Linked DNA regions of Homo sapiens. The protein of the gene in region 1 purifies or fractionates together with the protein of each later gene. This does not show direct contact. Each region holds a gene or a part of one and is shown on either strand. Other genes may lie near its edges.

Region 1 (3,519 bases):
TTAAATCTCATAAGGGAGAACAGAATGCTGCTTCTTCAGGCAGTGATAGTTCAACCAGACAACTATCAAAAACCAGCCTTAATCATCATTATTAAATAGTTATGAATAGGGGTAGCCCAAACTCACAGGCATAAATGATATAAAAAATAAATGGTCTGTTCAGGTTGACACCTGACAACCTAGTATCCATAAATCAGTTGATTGAAGACTCTGTATCAATGGTTCTCAACCCCACCTACACATTAGAATCACCTGAGGAAGGAAAAAAACTGGTACCAATGTCCTACTCTGAAAAATTCTGATTCCGTAGGTCTGAGATACAGGGCTAGGGTATTGATAGTTTTTAAATCTCTCTGGTGAATCTCATGTACAGCCAGGGTTGAGAAACTATGGACATATGTAATAATAATTTTGTGCCTCTTTAGAAAAAAATTTTATTGAAACATAAAATTTCATGTGTGGTATATTCTTAACATATAATGGAAATTTTTTGTGTGTGCATTTTCTCTATAGAGGGCCCATTCATTATATGGAAAGCTTTTCCCAATGGTTGAATGAATGTTCAGTGATTTTTTTTCTTCTCTGTGGAATTCACTAGGCTTATGTGTATAAGATGTCAAAACAACCAAATCAACACAATTGATATAATTACTGTCAACCAATGAATTAATTAACCAACTATTTTCAAGTTTTTGATGATTGTGGTACCATATGGGTATTTTTGTTTAGGACAATAATTTGGCCTTTTACTCTACAACAATAATGTGTTTCCTCTAAAATACTTACAGATGTGTCCTTTATTATGTGTTTCTTTAAATTGATTGAGTTGTCAACCTTAATACTCAAACTTTCTCTGAAAACTTTCTGTTTTTATTCAATTGCATCAAATTAAATAAAAAGGGTTATCTTGGGACAGGGTCTCTCTTTGTCACCCAGGCTGGAGTGCAGTGGCCTTATCAGGGCCCACTGCAGCCTCGACCTCCCAGGCTCAAGCAATCCTCCCATCTCAACCTCCCAAGTTGCTAGGACTACAGGCATGAGCCACCATGCCTGGCCAGACTTTTATATAAGAAAGATATTATATAGGACTCTTACGTAAGAAAGATAGGAGTTTAAACCTTGCCCTATGTGACTTCAACAAAGTATGATTAATTTTAGAGCTTTCCTTGTCATTAGGATTTATTGTTTTTGAGAAAATGTGGTGAGGTGACTGATACAGATTCTGAAGATTTATCTAGTAGACTACTCCTACTTAGAATTCACCTCTTTTTTTCTTTTCTCTCTCTCTCTCTCTCTTTTTTTTTTTAAGAGATGGGGTCTCACTGTCACCCAGGCTGGAGTGCAGTGGTGCAATGATGGTTCATTGCAGCCTTGAACTACTAGGCTCAGGCAGTCCTGCTTCAGCCTCCAAAGTAGCTGGAACTACAGGTGGGCACCACCATGCCCAGATAAATAATTTTTTTTTTTTTTGTAGAAATGGAAATGGAGTCTTACTATGTTTTTCCAGGCTGGACTTAAACTCCTGAGCTCAAGCAATCCTCTCTCCTCAGCCTCCCAAAGTGCTGAGATTATAGATGTAAGCTACCATGCCAGCCCCTTATTTTTTTAGTTTTATTATTTTTTTTTTGAGGTGGAGTCTCACTCTTTCACCCAGACTGGAGTGCAATGGCATGATCTCGGCTTGCTGCAACCTCTGCCTCCTGGGTTCAAGCGATTCTCCTGCCTCAGCCTCCTGAGTAGCTGGGATTACAGGCACCTGCCACCACACCCGGCTAATTTTTGTATTTTTAGTAGAGACGGGGTTTCACCACGTTGGTCAGGCTGGTCTCAAACTTCTGACCTCAAGTGATCTGCCCACCTCGGCCTCCCAAAGTGCTGGGATTACAGGCATGAGCCACCACGCCCTACTCAGCCCCTTATTTTTTTTAATTTGTTCTTATTTGGTTTTAATGCTCATGGAGATTCTCACCCACTGTTACCAGTTAGCTTCCCCAAATTACACTTTAACTGTTGATTTTGTAATAAAAATAAATAAATTTTTATCCACGAATAAAAATCTTAATGGATTTTGGCCAGTAGATTTTAAACTGTATTTTGCAAATTCCTGGGAGTATCAGGGAGCACCTCTGGAGCTGTGTTACAGGGCATGAGGGCAATGGGTGGCAGACCGATGTCCAGCTTCCAGCTTTGGGCTCCTTTCTGGTGGCCCCTTCTGCTATCTGAGTAGGTGTTCTGTTCTTGATTTCTTAATGGATTTTGGCCAGTAGATTTTAAACTGTATTTTGCACATTCCTGGGAGTATCAGGGAGCACCTCTGGAGCTGTGTTACAGGGCATGAGGGCAATGGGTGGCGGACCGATGTCCAGCTTCCACCTTTGGGCTCCTTTCTGGTGGCCCCTTCTGCTATCTGAGCAGGTGTCCTGTGCTTGATTTCACATATTTGGTTTCCAAGTAAGATTTTATTTGAACAAAGGATTTCTTGGCCAAAACAAGTTTGTAAGTGATTGGGCCACATGTTTCTAAGTTTCTGCTTCCTGTTCCTTGCCAAATTTGTTTTATATTCTGGCAGCTCCTAATTGTTTCAAGCTACGACTGCGGATCTGTGTTGAAAAGCCTGGGAAATCTTCGGTCTTAATAACTTTATAACTTTGATGCCTGTGGGGAGAGATAACCAAGTAAGCAGTTAGATATTTACAGCAAGAACTATAGCTTGGGAGTTATCAGTATAGGGACTCAGTTCAAGTTATATGTCTCCCCAGGAGAGTGTTTCTAGAGAGGGGTGAGATGGGTCAAAGATCAAATTCTGGGGAATAGCTATGCTGGGCTAAGTGCCGTTCTCTGTATTCACGTTAACCAAATGTGCATTTTGGTTAATGAAGTTTGCATTTCATATTTTAATTTTATAATTCCCCCATGTACAGTTGTACATAACTGCCAAAAGAGTTGATGCATGGGTATATATGTGTGTGGGGGCGGGGGGTAGCATGATGGGGTCAGAGGACAGGGCTTGGAAACCAGCCAAGGATGCTTATCCTTTCTTTGAAAACCCTGCATCATGCACAAATCACTGGGGCCCCTTCTACATGCAGGTTGAAGTGCACAATGAGAGGATAAACTTGGGTGGTTACCTAGTGAATTTGGCAATTCAGACAGCTGTTGTGGCATTTTTTGACATAAAATTATTTGTTAAGAAATATCACGGTTTCTTACCTTAAAAAATCCAGACATTTCCCCCGTATCTTAGTTCTCCCTTGTGGAACTTGAATAGTGACTGCTAGGTTTTGGGTGTGATCCCATGGACGTTTAGGTCAAATCCCCACTCCACATGGGTCTGTAGCTAATTGTGTTTTATTGACACAGACTCCACCCTCAATGCCAGCCGGCTCTTTGGTAAATTTAGTCATGAGGAACACCTGGCAACAGCTACTAACTTAATTAAAAAATTCAAAAACACTCTTAGAAAAAGGCAGAGTACCTAGATAAAGAACAAATAAATACTCATAAATAAGATACTTGTTA
Region 2 (3,519 bases), on another chromosome or scaffold:
GGAAAAATGCTTTGTGATTGCTTGTTTTGAATGGTGAGCATTGTATTTTGTTTTAAGTTGTTTTCTGGTTGTTATTACAGCTATGAAGTCTTACACTCCATATTTCATTCTCCTGTGGAGTGCTGTTGGGATAGCGAAGGCTGCCAAAATCATCATCGTGCCGCCAATTATGTTTGAAAGCCATATGTACATTTTCAAGACGCTAGCCTCAGCCTTGCACGAGAGAGGCCACCATACAGTGTTCCTCCTCTCTGAAGGCAGAGACATCGCCCCATCTAATCATTACAGCCTCCAGCGCTACCCAGGGATCTTTAACAGTACCACCTCAGATGCTTTCCTACAGTCCAAGATGCGGAATATTTTCTCTGGGAGATTGACAGCAATCGAACTGTTTGACATACTGGATCACTATACTAAGAACTGTGACCTGATGGTTGGCAACCATGCCCTGATCCAGGGTCTGAAGAAAGAAAAATTTGACCTGCTGCTGGTGGACCCTAATGATATGTGTGGATTTGTGATAGCTCATCTTTTAGGGGTTAAATATGCTGTATTTTCAACTGGCCTTTGGTATCCTGCTGAAGTGGGTGCTCCTGCTCCATTAGCATACGTCCCAGAGTTTAACTCACTCCTCACAGACCGCATGAACTTGCTGCAAAGGATGAAAAATACCGGTGTTTACCTCATTTCCAGATTAGGGGTCAGCTTTCTGGTTCTTCCCAAATATGAAAGGATAATGCAGAAGTACAACCTGCTGCCAGAGAAGTCCATGTATGATTTGGTTCATGGGTCCAGCCTGTGGATGCTGTGTACTGACGTAGCACTGGAATTCCCAAGACCCACTCTGCCTAATGTTGTTTATGTAGGAGGAATCCTAACCAAACCAGCCAGCCCACTACCAGAAGTAAGGTTTGCCGAATTCCTTGGTAATTCTTTTTTAATGTAAAAGTCAATTTTGATTTTTGGAAGAGATATGATTTGTTATTTATATATATTGTATATATACAGTACACTAAAAGGTGATTAGGACATGGGGCCTCCAAAGTCCCTTTATGTGGGTCCACCACTTCCCTGGGAAACATTCCTGCTTTGAATGAGCATTTCTGTAATACTGAAAAGACCACTATGCCATATGGTCAATAGACTGCCTGGGAAGTAGTTTTCTGATTAAGTAATAGTTATAGTATGTGAGGAGAATATAGTTAAATGGTTAATTTTAATGAGTATAAGTGATTTTATCTTTAATTACACACAGAATCCCCTCTGTTCTGCCCCAAATAGCACAATTAACAGGTATATATGTTTAGCTTCAGGTCAGTGAACAGAGGTTCTTCTCTGGGAGGTTATTACCACTAGTTTATGTCCAATAATGAAAGTGAGGTGGTAACTTCCATCAAAGTAGGGAGTTGGTTAATTTAAGCTAGTAAGTAAATGTAATGGTTTTAAGGAAAGCATGCTCTATTGCAATTTCATTTCAATGATGGAATCAATGGCACTTTAAGAAACTCTGTTCTCTATGTGAAACTTAAATTCTTTTTATTGATTGAGCCAACAGTAAATCCCTTGGTATTCTGTTCACCATCCTTGTTTTTTATTAGGTATCCCACATTAGCAGAAGCCATACACATACCTATTGTTGTAGTGAGTTTTCTAACCTCAGATTGAATCTCTCAATTTAACCTCAACATCAGATCCCATTTACTAGGAAGTGTAGGGCTTGTTGCAGGACTTTATTCAAGTTACTTTTAATCCTACCTCTGGAAATAGCCACTCAAAACAATTTTGCTAAATTGTTGATTTCTAGTTCTGGTACTACATATTAAAAATTCTATCAGGGCCTTGATGAAGAGTAAATCCAGATTTTCTCGTATAGATGAGGACAATCACATGGCTGAATTTTGTCGTGAGGCAATAAGGTGATTAGAAATATACGACCTGTAGGCTTTTCTAATATGGCCATTAGAGTTATAATTAATAAATAATATATCGATATATTTCATATAACATGGAAACAGAAATGGCCTGTACACCCACAGCATTTCAAATATATACAGCCACTGGAGGCCATGAGGGCACACTTGTTCTCTCTGACGTCAACTGTAAAGGATAGGGATTAATCTCAGCTTATCTTAGCCATTCTTGAATTTATCCAAGCTCATTTTGAATCCTCAGATCTTCTCTGGCAGAGTCACCTTCCTAAAGGTAGCTAAAATCAGATTTTAGAAGTAGCTTCTAAAAGATTTGGTAATCAAGGTGTGTCTTTACCTTAACTGAGTCATTTAAAATGTTACACAAATCATCCTTGTTCTCTCTAGGTCATCATCTTTTCCGAGCTAGAACACTCCCCTTCTGCCAGCTCCCTTTGGTTTTCATCTGGGTGATGTCTCTCTTCTTCAGTCACTTGATTGAAGAAGAAGTATATGATGAAAAGGAGCTGGACGCGGTGTCCCATGCCTGTAATCCCAGCACTTTGGGAGGCCAAGGCAGGAGGATCACTTGAGTCCAGGAGTTCGAGACCAGCCTGGACAACATAGTGAAACCTTGTCTCTACAAAAAATAAAAATTAGCTGGGTATGGTGATGCATGTCTATAGTCCCAGCTACTCAGGAGGCTGAGGTGGGAGGATCACTTGAGTTCAGGAGGTCGAGGCCGCAGTGAGCTGAGATCACACCACTACACTCCAGCCTAGGTGTCAGAGTGAGACCCTGTCTAAAAAAAAAAAAAAAAAAAAAAAAAGGAATGTCCTGTCCTGATTGCCTTTTCTTTCCTTCCAGTTCCTGCTGTATATTTGTCTTGAGTTGCAGCAACTTGAATGACACAGTATAAGTGTAGGAAAATATTTTATGTTTTATTTTCAATACTCTACCTTTCAAAAAGATGCATAGCATGTGATAATTTTTTTTCTACCATCCAAGCATTTTTTTCTGTCATGGATTCCTCTGCACACAGATGTCCTTACTAGTGTCACTATTTTGTTTTACATGAAAAACATCTTTTTAGTGGTTTTTGGTGCTCGACATAAGGTATTACTCAAAATATCCTTTAATTTGCCATAATTTCTCATTTGACACTGGCTTGACTTTCTTTGTGGAGTTCTTTTTCCTCTGGGCTATTTGTAGTGGTTCTTTTGAAATGCGTTTTTTGTTTACAAAGTTTGCTTTGTGCCAGTTAGTTTGGTTGCATGCACAGACATGGCATGTGTGCATGTGTTATATATAGTATGTGGACATAGATAAGTATATTATTATTATTGGAAGTCTATTAGATTATCATTGTGAAGGGCTGTTTTCATTTCAGAATGTTATTTATAGTTTTTGAGCAGGGAGTATTTTGAAGAATGATGTGCAGTACTCTTTCAGGTATTCCTTATTCTGGTGTGGTTTTATATGCTTATGAACACATGTTCCCACTGAGATTTTTCTAGTAGATTTATTTGAGATAATAAACTGTACCTTTTCATTCTAAAAGTTAATGAGTTTCTCAAATGCCTGTATTATTTACAGGGCATTGTTGTGACAG
Region 3 (3,037 bases), on another chromosome or scaffold:
CCATAAACCCTAAGACAATTTTCTAAAAATAAAATAGTATCAATACAAGTATTTTAAGTCACATCAGAATAAGCACAAAATTTGACCTGTAACAACTGTATAACTGCTGCCAATTTCTGATTTCATTTTGTTTATATGGATGATAGATTATTTTGATTTGTATTCGTATGTGTGTATATGTTTTTTCTCTAAGGAAGGAAGTTTGTTAACATCCTGATGTGCTTTTGGTATCTAACCAGTGCCAACATCCCCAGTGAAACTTTAAGAGGAGCCAGTGTATTCCAGGTTAAGTTGGGGAATCAGAATGTGGAAACTAAACAACTTCTTAGTGCAAGCTATGAGTAAGTTTAATCAGATTTCATTGTTTCCTTTCTTCAGAAAATGGAAGGTAGTGTGAAGGTATGAAAACTAAGAGATCTTTAGGAAGAAAAGAATTGAAATTTGACAAGTTATTTATGAAGAGAAAAGGTCAGAAAGACACACTGGATATGAAACAGGAGAGTTAAGAAATTAGAAAGAGGTAAAGTTGCTGAATTTAATTAAATGATGTTTTAGCTGTCTATTGCTGCTTAACAAACTACCCCCAAATTCATTGGCTTCAAACAGCCATTGACTTTGCCTGCTATTTCACTGCTCAGAAATTTTGGATAGGCTCAGTTAGGGGGTTTTCTCTGCTTCACCTGGCATCAACACGAGTGGCAGGAGCTGGAGGATTCATTTCCACAGTGACTTCTTAACTCGCATGGGTGGCACCTTGGTACTCCTTGGCTTCTGCATGACTCTGTATTCTCCAGGGCCACTCTTTGTGGCTTGGACTTGTGGTAGTTTCAGACTAGTCATATCTTTCATATAGTGGTTGAATTCTAGGAGGCAGAAAATGGAAGCTGCTAAACCAGTAAAGGGCTATGCCCAGAATTAGAACATCAGTTCTGCCATAGTCTACTTGTCAAAGCAGTCAAAGGATCTGTATAGTTTAAAGGGTGTAGAAAGACTCCCCCATTTTTTGGGGCAAAAACCAGCAAGGCCACATAGCAGAAGAGCACATGGGAGGGGAGATATGGTTGTGGTCATTTTTGGAAAATAAAATCTGCCATAATTGGTACATGAACAATTTATTCACTAGACATCTGTTGGTCATCTGTGTGCCCACATGCTCTGGTAGAGGTTCAGATACAAAGTTGAAGGGATACTGCCCTTAAGCACATACTGTATAGTAGGAAGTTAGCAAGTTACGTAAAAGAGACATTATATTGTATTTTTATGCGAATAAAATCTAGAACAGTGAACTGCTGGAGCAAGTCAGTGAAGATATAATTTAACATTTATTAAAAAAATATGTTGCCAGAGTTACACAAATCTGCTTCAAAATAACAAACCCCAAAAATGACCTAAGAAATAAAATGTATTCTGTTTTACTAAGGTAAAAGAGAATTATATCCTCATTTTTTTTTTGCTCTTCTTAAAAGAAATGTGTTTTTTTAAATTTTGCTTTATTTGTAATTACCCAAAATATTCTATATATTTAAATACTTAATTTAAATCTACTGAATTGCCTGTTAAGAAATAATTTTTAAAGAGCACTGTCGTCAATACTAAACTTTATCTTTTCTGATGTTTCTTACTAAGACTATGGGTACTTCATAAACATTGTTATTTTCAAGATTGATTTAATGTATGTAAACTAAATTCCACTATTTATTCCTAAATTGGTAACAGTGCTATTTGAAAAATAGCTTTTTGCCTGTATCCTAGGTTATGTATTTAAAGTGCTGTTTGCATCACCAGAGTCCAGTTTATCTGTCCTCATATTAGGCATGTGTTATAGCTAGTATTTAACACATACTAGCTATATGTGTTATTTATATAACACATATATCCAAGTTTCTCTTAGGGGCTGGTAGATGTTGAATATAGATTAGTCCATTAAAAATACTTACATTACTTGAGAATGTACTTCAATTTTGTGGGTATATTTATTGTGATTGAATGGGTAGGTTAAACTTTTTTTTGTTTTGATTTTGATTTAATATTAACCATTATCTTGTTGCCAAAAATTCTTCTAAATATACACTTGCAAATTACATAGTTATCTAACACATACTTGGACTGATGTAAGATTTACATTATTTGCAATGTCTTTCCTAGGTTTCAGAGGGAGTTCACACAAGGAGTAAAGCCTGACTGGACCATTGCACGGATTGAACACTCAAAATTATTAGAATAATTTTCTTGGAAAAATCAGCTTATGGACTTTAGCAGTTGCTGTGAAAAACTAAGGAAGAAAAATTTTGGGGTCATTTGATCTTCACTTAATCTAAGTCTGTGAATTACTTTTATATTATTTTGAAATACTCCTTGCAGTATATTGGCATGATACAGTAAAAGCATTTTCCACAGATTGTTATCACCTTCTTTAAAAGAAGTCAAAATTTAAAAAATACAATAGCACGTTGTTGGTGTCATATTCAATAACATTTCCAATGCTACATATAATTTTATAGACATAATAAAGAAGGTATTGAAAAAACTACTTACAAATTTCTTTATATATTTTTTAAATTGTTTGAGAAACAGGGTCTTGCTCTGTCTCCCTGGATGAAGTCCAGTGGCATGATCATAGTTCACTGTAACGTCGAGCTCCTGGGCTTGAGCGATCCCCCTGCCTCAGCCTTCAGAGTAGCTGGGACTACAGGCATCCACCAGCATGGCTGGCTAATTTTAAAAAATTTTTATAGAGATTTCACTATGTTGCCCAGCTGGTCTTGAACTCCTCAAGTGGTTCTGCCTCGGCCTCCCAAAGAGCTAGGATTATAGGCATGAGCCACTGCACCCAGCCTACTTACACATTTCTAAATTAATAGTTCTTAAATATTTTATTTGTGGCTAATACATTTACACTTTTTTTTTTGACGGAGTCTCCCTCTGTTGCCCAGGCTGGAGTATAGTGGTATGATCTCAGTTCACTGCAACCTCCACCTCCTGGGTTGAAGCAATTCTCCTGCCTCAGCCTCCCTTGTAGCTGGGACTACAGGTGTGC
Region 4 (3,519 bases), on another chromosome or scaffold:
AAGTCATCTATATAAATATCTTTCAGTGAATAAAATTATCTTACCCAATTCTTCCAGTTCTTGAATGACTTCTTTCCACACAGGCTCGATATGAATGCAGCTAAAGCACCAATCGGAGGTGATCTTGATGAGGTAGGGTTTCTTGAAGCTATCTGGAACCACTTCATTCACATAATGTGAAAAGTGCAATAAATACTTTTCGTCAATTGAGTCCCGCCGTTCAGAATTAAAAGGGAAGTGAAAAAAGGATTCATCAAAATAAAAATTTTCATGGAAATGGCGGAAGCGATACTCTCGCTGCTGTTGCTGCTTCTGGTAGCCCTGGTTCTCTCCAGCGTCTCCATATTGATCATAATTTGATCTCTTTTCTTCATTTGAAAGAATCTATAAAGGAAGAAAAAAATCTAAACAACAACAAAAGGTTCATCCAAAAGACTTTTTTGTAAGCAGCTTGAAAGACATAGGAAGAAAATAAATGCAGCCAGTCGTGGTGGCTCACACCTGTAATCCCAGCACTTTGGGAGGCTGAGGCGGGTGGATCACTTGAGGTCGGGAGTTTGAGATCAGCCTGACCAACATGGAGAAACCCCGTCTCTACTAAAAATACAAAAAATCAAATCAGCCGGGAGTGGTGGCGCATGCCTGTAATCCCAGCTACTCGGGAGGCTGAGGTAGGAGAATTGCTTGAACCCAGGAGGCGGAGGTTGAGGTGAGCCGAGATGGTGCCACTGCACTCCAGCCTAGGCAACAAGAGCGAAACTCCGTCTCAAAAAAAAAAAAAAAAAAGAAAAGAAAAGAAAAGAAAAGAAATGTAAAAATTATGACACGATTATGTGAGGCCAAGGTTTGGAGGATCCCTTGAAGCCAGGAGTTCAAGACCAGCCTGGACCACATAGCATGACTTTGCTACAAAAAGAAAAAAAAAAATCGGCCAGGCATGGTGGTGCGTGCCTATAGTCCTAGCTACTTGGGAGGGTGAGGTGAGTGGGAGATTGCTTGAGCCCAGTAGTTGAAGGCTGCAGTGAGCTGTGATCGCATCACTGTACTCCAGCCTGGGTGACAGAGACAGACTGTCTCTTAAGAAAAAAGAAAAAAGATTATGACATAATTAGATATTCTTTTTCTTTTCGAGATAGAGTCTCACTCTGTCACCCAGGCTGGAGTGAAGTGGCGTGATCACAGCTCACTGCAGCCTCCATCTCTCAGGGTCAACCTTCCATCTCAGCCTCCTGAGTAGCTAGGACCATCAGCACATGCCACCATGCCTGGCTAATTTTTGTATTTTTCACCATGTTGTCTAGGCTGGTCCTGAATTCCTCAGCTTAAGCGATCTGCATGCCTCAGCCTCCCCAAGTGCTGGGATTACAGGGCGTGAGCAGCCACTGGGTCCAGCCGATTAGATATTCTAAATGCAGTCATTCAAAAGAATGAGAAACTCTTCTTTCACTAGAGAAACATTAAAGAACATTCAAGACTAAAATATTTCAGTTTAGGTACTCATGCTCATCTTGGCATTAAAGATTTCAAACTACCACAACATTAAACACTTCAGCAAAACAAATAAAATAACATAATGTTGATCACCAGGGCTCAATGACAAGAAAATTGACCTGGTCATACCTGGTGAGTTGGACCAATTCAAACCAAGATAAGAAAAGCTATGAACACCAAATAGCTATAGTCTAGTGCCTTGTCTGTTAATTTACTTTGTTTTACAAAATAACTTTGAAGTCTAAAATTCAGGAATCTGTTTTAGAATGATGACGTGTTATTCTATGAGCTAAGCACTGTCTGCTGAAGGGCATTCCCTATACAAATCAGAAAGCCACTGAATTCTCTTTGATGCATATTCCAGACCAATCTACTTGAGCTGACATACTGGAAAATTACTGAAAATCTTGTGTTTAAATGTATTTGTTACCTCGTGCCACTTTAATAAATATAGGCGATTTGGTATGTGATTCTTTAATGCATATTTCTAAGAAGGCAATAGTGACACATACAGACATACTCAGGGTAATTCTACAATTCTAGTTAAAGCCTTTAAAATAGGCCAGTTTTTCCAAGAGCTGAAGTGTTCAGGCACTTGTTCCAATATACTGGATGTGGCCAAATATGTTCTATTATTTTTTATTTTATTTTATTTTTTGAGACGGTCTCCCTCTGTTACCCAGGCCTCGATCTCTGCTCACTGCAACCTCCCACTCCCGGGTTCAAGCAATTCTCCTGCCTAAGCCTCCTGAGTAGCTGGGATTACAGGCACGTGCCACCACGCCCGGCGAATTTTTTTTGTATTTTTAGTAAAGACAGGGTTTCAGCATGTTGGTCAGGCTGGTCTCGAACTCCTGACCTCGTGATCCACCCACCTCGGCCTCCCAAAGTGCTGGGATTACAGGCATGAGCCACCGCATCCAGCCTGTTCTCTCTATTATAATCTAGAAACTGCATCAAGGGCATGGGGAACATGACCTTTCTGACAACTTTACAAAACTCATCACCTCCTAAGGCATATTTTGTAAGAGCTAATGGATGCATCACAAAGCTGGACACGATACCTCGTAAGCCTTACTGATTTGAATGAACTTGTCTTCTGCTCCAGGATCTTTGTTTTTGTCAGGATGCCTGAAACACAAACAGGCAGGCGGTGAGAAAGGATGTAACTTTTAATGCACAGTCATTTAATGTCCTTGTCCACAGAGTTCACTACAGAGGCAGACGGAGGGCTATTTTGTTAGGAAAGTTTCTTAAAATAAATGATAGAGGCAATCAGTTGTTTTACATGACTATAATAAATGAAACTTTGAAACAGGCTATTTTTTCCCAAAGCACTCCAGCAGGGCATGTTTTCAAAGCACCATATAATACTGCAGCATTTCACAGAGGAAGGTGGGAAATGGTGCATGTCTGTACACTGCTCCCAAACACTGCTAAAGCTGGCTGAAGGCTAAGTCGTTTATCCATAAGAACCCATGTCTTCTCCTAGGATGGCAACGTTTCATCCCAATGCTAGAATGATATCAGGATGCTAGAATGCTGTTGTTTCTTCTGATAACACAGGTAGACATGAGAAATAGCTTTTAGGATAGACTAAATTCATTTAGTAACAATCAGGTTTCAAACTGCACTTGTGCCTGACTTTCAAATTAGAACATTTTTCGTTATTATTACGATTGCTTTTTACCTGGATAAAGATTTCAAGGCCACTGTTTTTTTTGTTTTTTTGTTTTTTTTGAGACAGGGTCTCACTCTGTTGCCCAGACTGGAATGCAGTGGTACAATCTTGGCGCACTGCAACCTCTGCCTCCCAGGCTCAAGCGATTCTCTTGCCTCAGCCTCCCGAGTAGCTGGGATTACAGGCCTGCGCCACTATCACCCGGCTAATTTTTGTATTTTTAGTAGAGATGGGGTTTCACCATGTTGGCTGGGCTGGTCTCAAACTCCTGACCTCAAATGATCCACCTGTCTCGGCCTCCAAAAGTGTTGGGAATACAGGCGTGAGCCACCACGCCCGGCCTCAAT
Region 5 (4,050 bases), on another chromosome or scaffold:
GAGCCGTGATTGCACCACTGCACTCCAGCTTGAGTGAGAGTGAGACTCTGGCTCAAAGATAGATTTTTTTTTTCTTTTTTGAGACGGAGTCTCTGTTGCCCAGGCTGGAGTGCAGTGGCATGATCTCGGCTCACTGCAACCTCCACCGCCCGTGTTCAAGCGATTCTCCTGCCTCTTCCTCCCGAGTGCACTATCATGCCTGGCTAATTTTTGTATTTTTAGTACAGACGGGGTTTCACCATGTTGGCCAGGCTGGTCTTGAACTCCCGATGCACCCGCCTCGCCCTCCTAAAATGCTGGAATTACAGGCTTGAGCCACCGCGCCCGGTCGATATTTTTTTTTCCTAAAAATTGAGATAGTTTAACAGCCTTTTTTGTCCTAAGTCTTATAGCGCATCTCCGTTTGCACTGGCTCAGGACTCGAGAGCCACACGTGGCTAGTGCCTACTGTTCTGGCGCGCTCAGGCTTGGAGCCTTCTCTGCGGAGGCCAAGTCCTGCAAGGGATCTGTTTGCTGCGGTTTCCTAGTAGTGTCTGCCGCATCACTGGGGCCCGGTGATCTGGGTAACCATGTGAGCTTGGGTAACCTCTCCTCTCCCTCTCCTGGGACTGCTGTGGACGTTAAATACAGCGGTGGATGTTAGAGACGCAGTTCAGTCACTGGCATTGATTCGCCGTTGTTGCTGCTCTTCTTTCCTCAAAGGCGACTGAAGGGCAGCAGGCCCATGCTCGCTTCTGTCTGCCCGATGAGTCACTTCACCCTAGGCCTGGCCCTCTAGAGAACACTCCTCTAAGATTACAGAATGCAAATCTGGATTCCAGAGCTGGCAGAGGCCCCAGGGTCAGGCTCTAGGACAACCGGCGAAAAAGCGGGAACCTCTACTCCACGCCCTTGGTTTTTCGCCCCTTGACAGCTTGAGGCTCCGCCCCGCTTTGCCCCGCCCCCCCAGCTCCGGCCGACGCCCACCGGAACTACAGCCCCCATGATGCAGTGGGAGTCCGAGCCTCTGCGTCGTCCGCTTGGGACGCGCCGGCGGAGGAGTGGCGCGCGGAGGAGTGGCGCGCTGAGACGCCGCTCGAAGCGCCGAGTCGCGGGGCAGCAGAGGCGTAAGGAGTAGGCGGGGCGAGCCGGCTGGGCTCAGGGTCCACCAGCTCACCCGGGTCGAGGGGCAATCTGAGGCGACTGGTGACGCGCTTATCCACTTCCCTCCTCCCGCCTCCCCCTGGGGTGGCGCTCGCTGGTGACGTAGTGAGTGTGATGGCCGCCGCGAGGCCGGGAAGGTGAAGGTGAGAGGGCGAGCAAGCCGGGGTGGCGGGGACTGGCCCGGCCCGGCCCGGCGAGTCCTGAGCAGCTCGGCGTGGGCCGACGGGATTCTGGGGCCACGGGGGTCTGGGATGCAGTCAAGCGGGGTCCCCACTCTCCGGCCTCGCCGCCGGGCCCTCCCCGGCCCTGAGAGGAGGGGGCGGGCCACGGGACCTGGGACTGGTCGGTGGGGTCCCCTGTAGCTTCTCATCGCCCCCGCCTTTCCACCCTTCACGGCCATGTTCTACCCCTGCCCCTTCTCTATTTTTCATCCTGTCTTCATTTTGCCAGCATTTACTCAGCACCTGATAGGTGTCCACGTTCACCGCGGGAGCGCCCTGCCATCCCCACTTTGGGCAGTTACTGCCTTCTCGTTCAGCCCTGTTTACTTATATGACTTCTCACCGGACTGTAAGGCCCTGGAGGGCAGGACTGTTTCTTATCCATTTCTAACGTGGCGCCTGACACACACAGAGAAGGCACACAGAAAATGTTGAATAAATAGCTGTTAAGACGCACGAAGGCAGAACTGCCCGTTACCCCCTCTCGTAATCCTTCATTGCCCTCTTTAAATTCTCAATCATCTCTCTCTCTTCTACCCAGAAAAGGGCTCTGGTTATCTCTTTTCTACCCAGAAAAGGGCTCTGGTTATCCGCCTCTGGTGTCCCAAGGTTTGGGGCTTGGGGGAGGAAGGCAGCTCAATGTAGTTAAAAAAGGAAGGAGGCCGGTCGCAGTGGATCACACCTGTAATCCCAGCACTTTGGGAGGCTGAGGCGGGCGGATCACCTGAGGTCAGGAGTTGGAGACCAGCCTGGCCAACATGGTGAAACCCCGTCTGTGCTAAAACCAAAAACTAGCCGGGCTTGCTGGCACACGCCTGTAATCCCATCTACTCAGGAGGCTGAGGCAGGAGAATCGCTTGAACCCGGGAGGCGGAGGTTGAGCCGAGATCGCGCTGCTGCACTCCAGGAGCTTTGGAGTCAAAGGGAGCTAATATTTCAGATCCCAGCTTAGACAAATCTTCAAGTATTCCAGCCCTCTGTCCCACAGAATAGAGAATTAAGTGAGATACTTTACAGTAGCTGAACACATTGGCTTTCAGTCAGTTCTTCTGTTCCTCAATAGTCAGCTGTTCCACAGTCCTCAAGCCCAGTTTTGTTCCTAGTTTTGCTCTGTCCTCTTCTCCCCTCTCTGGATGTACCTTTCCCAGGGCTCCTGCAGGGACCTCCGTGGTGCCTCAAACCCGCACATGGCGGAATACGTGTGCACAGTCAGGATTGGTCCCACACCTCTGCGTTTTTTTCCCCAGGGCACTTCCTCACATGCCAGCGCAACTCCCCAATACCTCAATGAGTAAGCTTCCCTCAGGGATGAGTTTGTTTGGCTTGAAACCTGATTAGACATGTTTTGTACACCAGTGTTTTTTTTTTTTGGACACCGGATCCATCTCCCTTTTCTTTTCTAATAAGTCAGGACTGGTGGAGTCAACACAGTCAATCAATAGCCAACCTCAACCTGAGACAGGACAGAAGAGAACTCAGAATCTTTTTGTCTTTTGGACTTCAGCCATGTCCATGATGCCTACCCTGTGAAGATCTCTCACCATCCAAAAAAGTAAGTAGTAGCTGTGACTTCTGGCACCCTGGATTTGAGCTGAGTGGACAGGGGTGTGCTCTCCTGGACCTCTGGTGGCAAGTCTCTTGAATGGCATCCTCTTTGTATAGAGCCACAGCTTTCTAACTTGTGTTGAAAAACTACCGTATCTTTTACTTCCGTGAAGGATTTCGCTGGTTGCTTAGAGAGCCTGTTTAAAAGTTGACAGTTCAGAAGTGGCTGGGATCTCTTGGGCTCCCTGAAGAGTTAGTCTCTGTCTCCCTCATTTGGTCTCTGCTGTGCTGGCTCTTCCCCATCTCGGCCCAGCACAGGTTGGCTCCTTGTCACTGCTCTTTTAAGACTCTGCTCTGTCCCCTTTACCCTGTATACTCTTTTTGTTTCGATTTCTCAGCTTCTCCTCTTTTCCAGTTGTGCCAGCAGACGATCCGTGGATCCATTTTATTTTCCCTGCTAGGAGTTGCTGTACATAACACTGGGTAAGGAGGTGGTGTGGATTCAGGGACTGTGCTTGGGATCCAAACACACCTTGCAGTGAATTTTGCTACTGCTGTCTCTACACCCAAGATACCTAATACTCCTCAACGAATAGCCTAGGTTGAGGCAAAGCTGTTGACCACCTTGGAGGGCTAATAGCAGTTTCCATTTAGAACTGGGTTCATTTCTGGTCTTAGGTTAATATTTATTAATACTGTGCCCTGGCACTTTTTAGGGGTAGGGGCAGGAGAGTACCAGAAAGAGTGGGCTTTTCCCTAAAGTGTGATCCTCGGGATTTTAAAAGCTATTACACAGAAGGGTTTTTTCATTGATTATATTTGTGAAATGCTGAATTCAACACAGTTAAACTAGTGTCTTTACAACAAGGCTTCCTTCCCAAACTCTTTTGCTGTGCTCACGTGCTCCACTGAGGAAAATGGTAGCATATGGTGTTTTTTGTTTGTTTGTTTGTTTTTTGTTTTTTTTGAGACAGAGTCTTGCTCTGTCACCCAGGCTGGAGTGCAGTGGCGCGATCTTGCAGTGGCGTGATCTTGGCTCACTGCAAGCTCTGCCTCCCAGGTTCACACTATCCTCCTGCCTCAGCCTCCCGAGTAGCTGTACTACAGGTGCATGCTGCCATGCCTGGCTAATTTTTTGTAG

The links.
Region 2: the proteins of SLC16A12 (region 1) and UGT8 purify together in Homo sapiens (affinity purification with mass spectrometry; one large-scale study listed by BioGRID and IntAct). This does not show direct contact.
Region 3: the proteins of SLC16A12 (region 1) and MAIP1 purify together in Homo sapiens (affinity purification with mass spectrometry; one large-scale study listed by BioGRID and IntAct). This does not show direct contact.
Region 4: the proteins of SLC16A12 (region 1) and DNAJC16 purify together in Homo sapiens (affinity purification with mass spectrometry; one large-scale study listed by BioGRID and IntAct). This does not show direct contact.
Region 5: the proteins of SLC16A12 (region 1) and MFN2 purify together in Homo sapiens (affinity purification with mass spectrometry; one large-scale study listed by BioGRID and IntAct). This does not show direct contact.

What each region holds. Positions count from the first base shown.
Region 1 is NC_000010.11:89,525,591-89,529,109, reverse strand, and holds part of SLC16A12 (monocarboxylate transporter 12), read left to right. Parts: intron 1-3,519. UniProt on the Homo sapiens protein: Functions as a transporter for creatine and as well for its precursor guanidinoacetate. Transport of creatine and GAA is independent of resting membrane potential and extracellular Na(+), Cl(-), or pH.
Region 2 is NC_000004.12:114,622,799-114,626,317, forward strand, and holds part of UGT8 (2-hydroxyacylsphingosine 1-beta-galactosyltransferase precursor), read left to right. Parts: exon of another isoform or gene 1-80; 5' UTR 81-82; coding exon 83-904; intron 905-3,519. UniProt on the Homo sapiens protein: Catalyzes the transfer of galactose to ceramide, a key enzymatic step in the biosynthesis of galactocerebrosides, which are abundant sphingolipids of the myelin membrane of the central nervous system and peripheral nervous system.
Region 3 is NC_000002.12:199,961,588-199,964,624, forward strand, and holds the end of MAIP1 (m-AAA protease-interacting protein 1, mitochondrial isoform 1 precursor), read left to right. Parts: intron 1-193; coding exon 194-341; intron 342-378; exon of another isoform or gene 379-520; intron 521-2,145; coding exon 2,146-2,224; 3' UTR 2,225-2,530; downstream 2,531-3,037. UniProt on the Homo sapiens protein: Promotes sorting of SMDT1/EMRE in mitochondria by ensuring its maturation.
Region 4 is NC_000001.11:15,533,340-15,536,858, reverse strand, and holds part of DNAJC16 (dnaJ homolog subfamily C member 16 isoform 1 precursor), read right to left. Parts: intron 2,623-3,519; coding exon 2,556-2,622; intron 385-2,555; coding exon 45-384; intron 1-44. UniProt on the Homo sapiens protein: Plays an important role in regulating the size of autophagosomes during the formation process.
Region 5 is NC_000001.11:11,979,199-11,983,248, forward strand, and holds the start of MFN2 (mitofusin-2), read left to right. Parts: upstream 1-1,245; 5' UTR 1,246-1,286; intron 1,287-2,611; exon of another isoform or gene 2,612-2,655; intron 2,656-2,771; 5' UTR 2,772-2,916; intron 2,917-3,324; exon of another isoform or gene 3,325-3,392; intron 3,393-4,050. UniProt on the Homo sapiens protein: Mitochondrial outer membrane GTPase that mediates mitochondrial clustering and fusion. Mitochondria are highly dynamic organelles, and their morphology is determined by the equilibrium between mitochondrial fusion and fission events.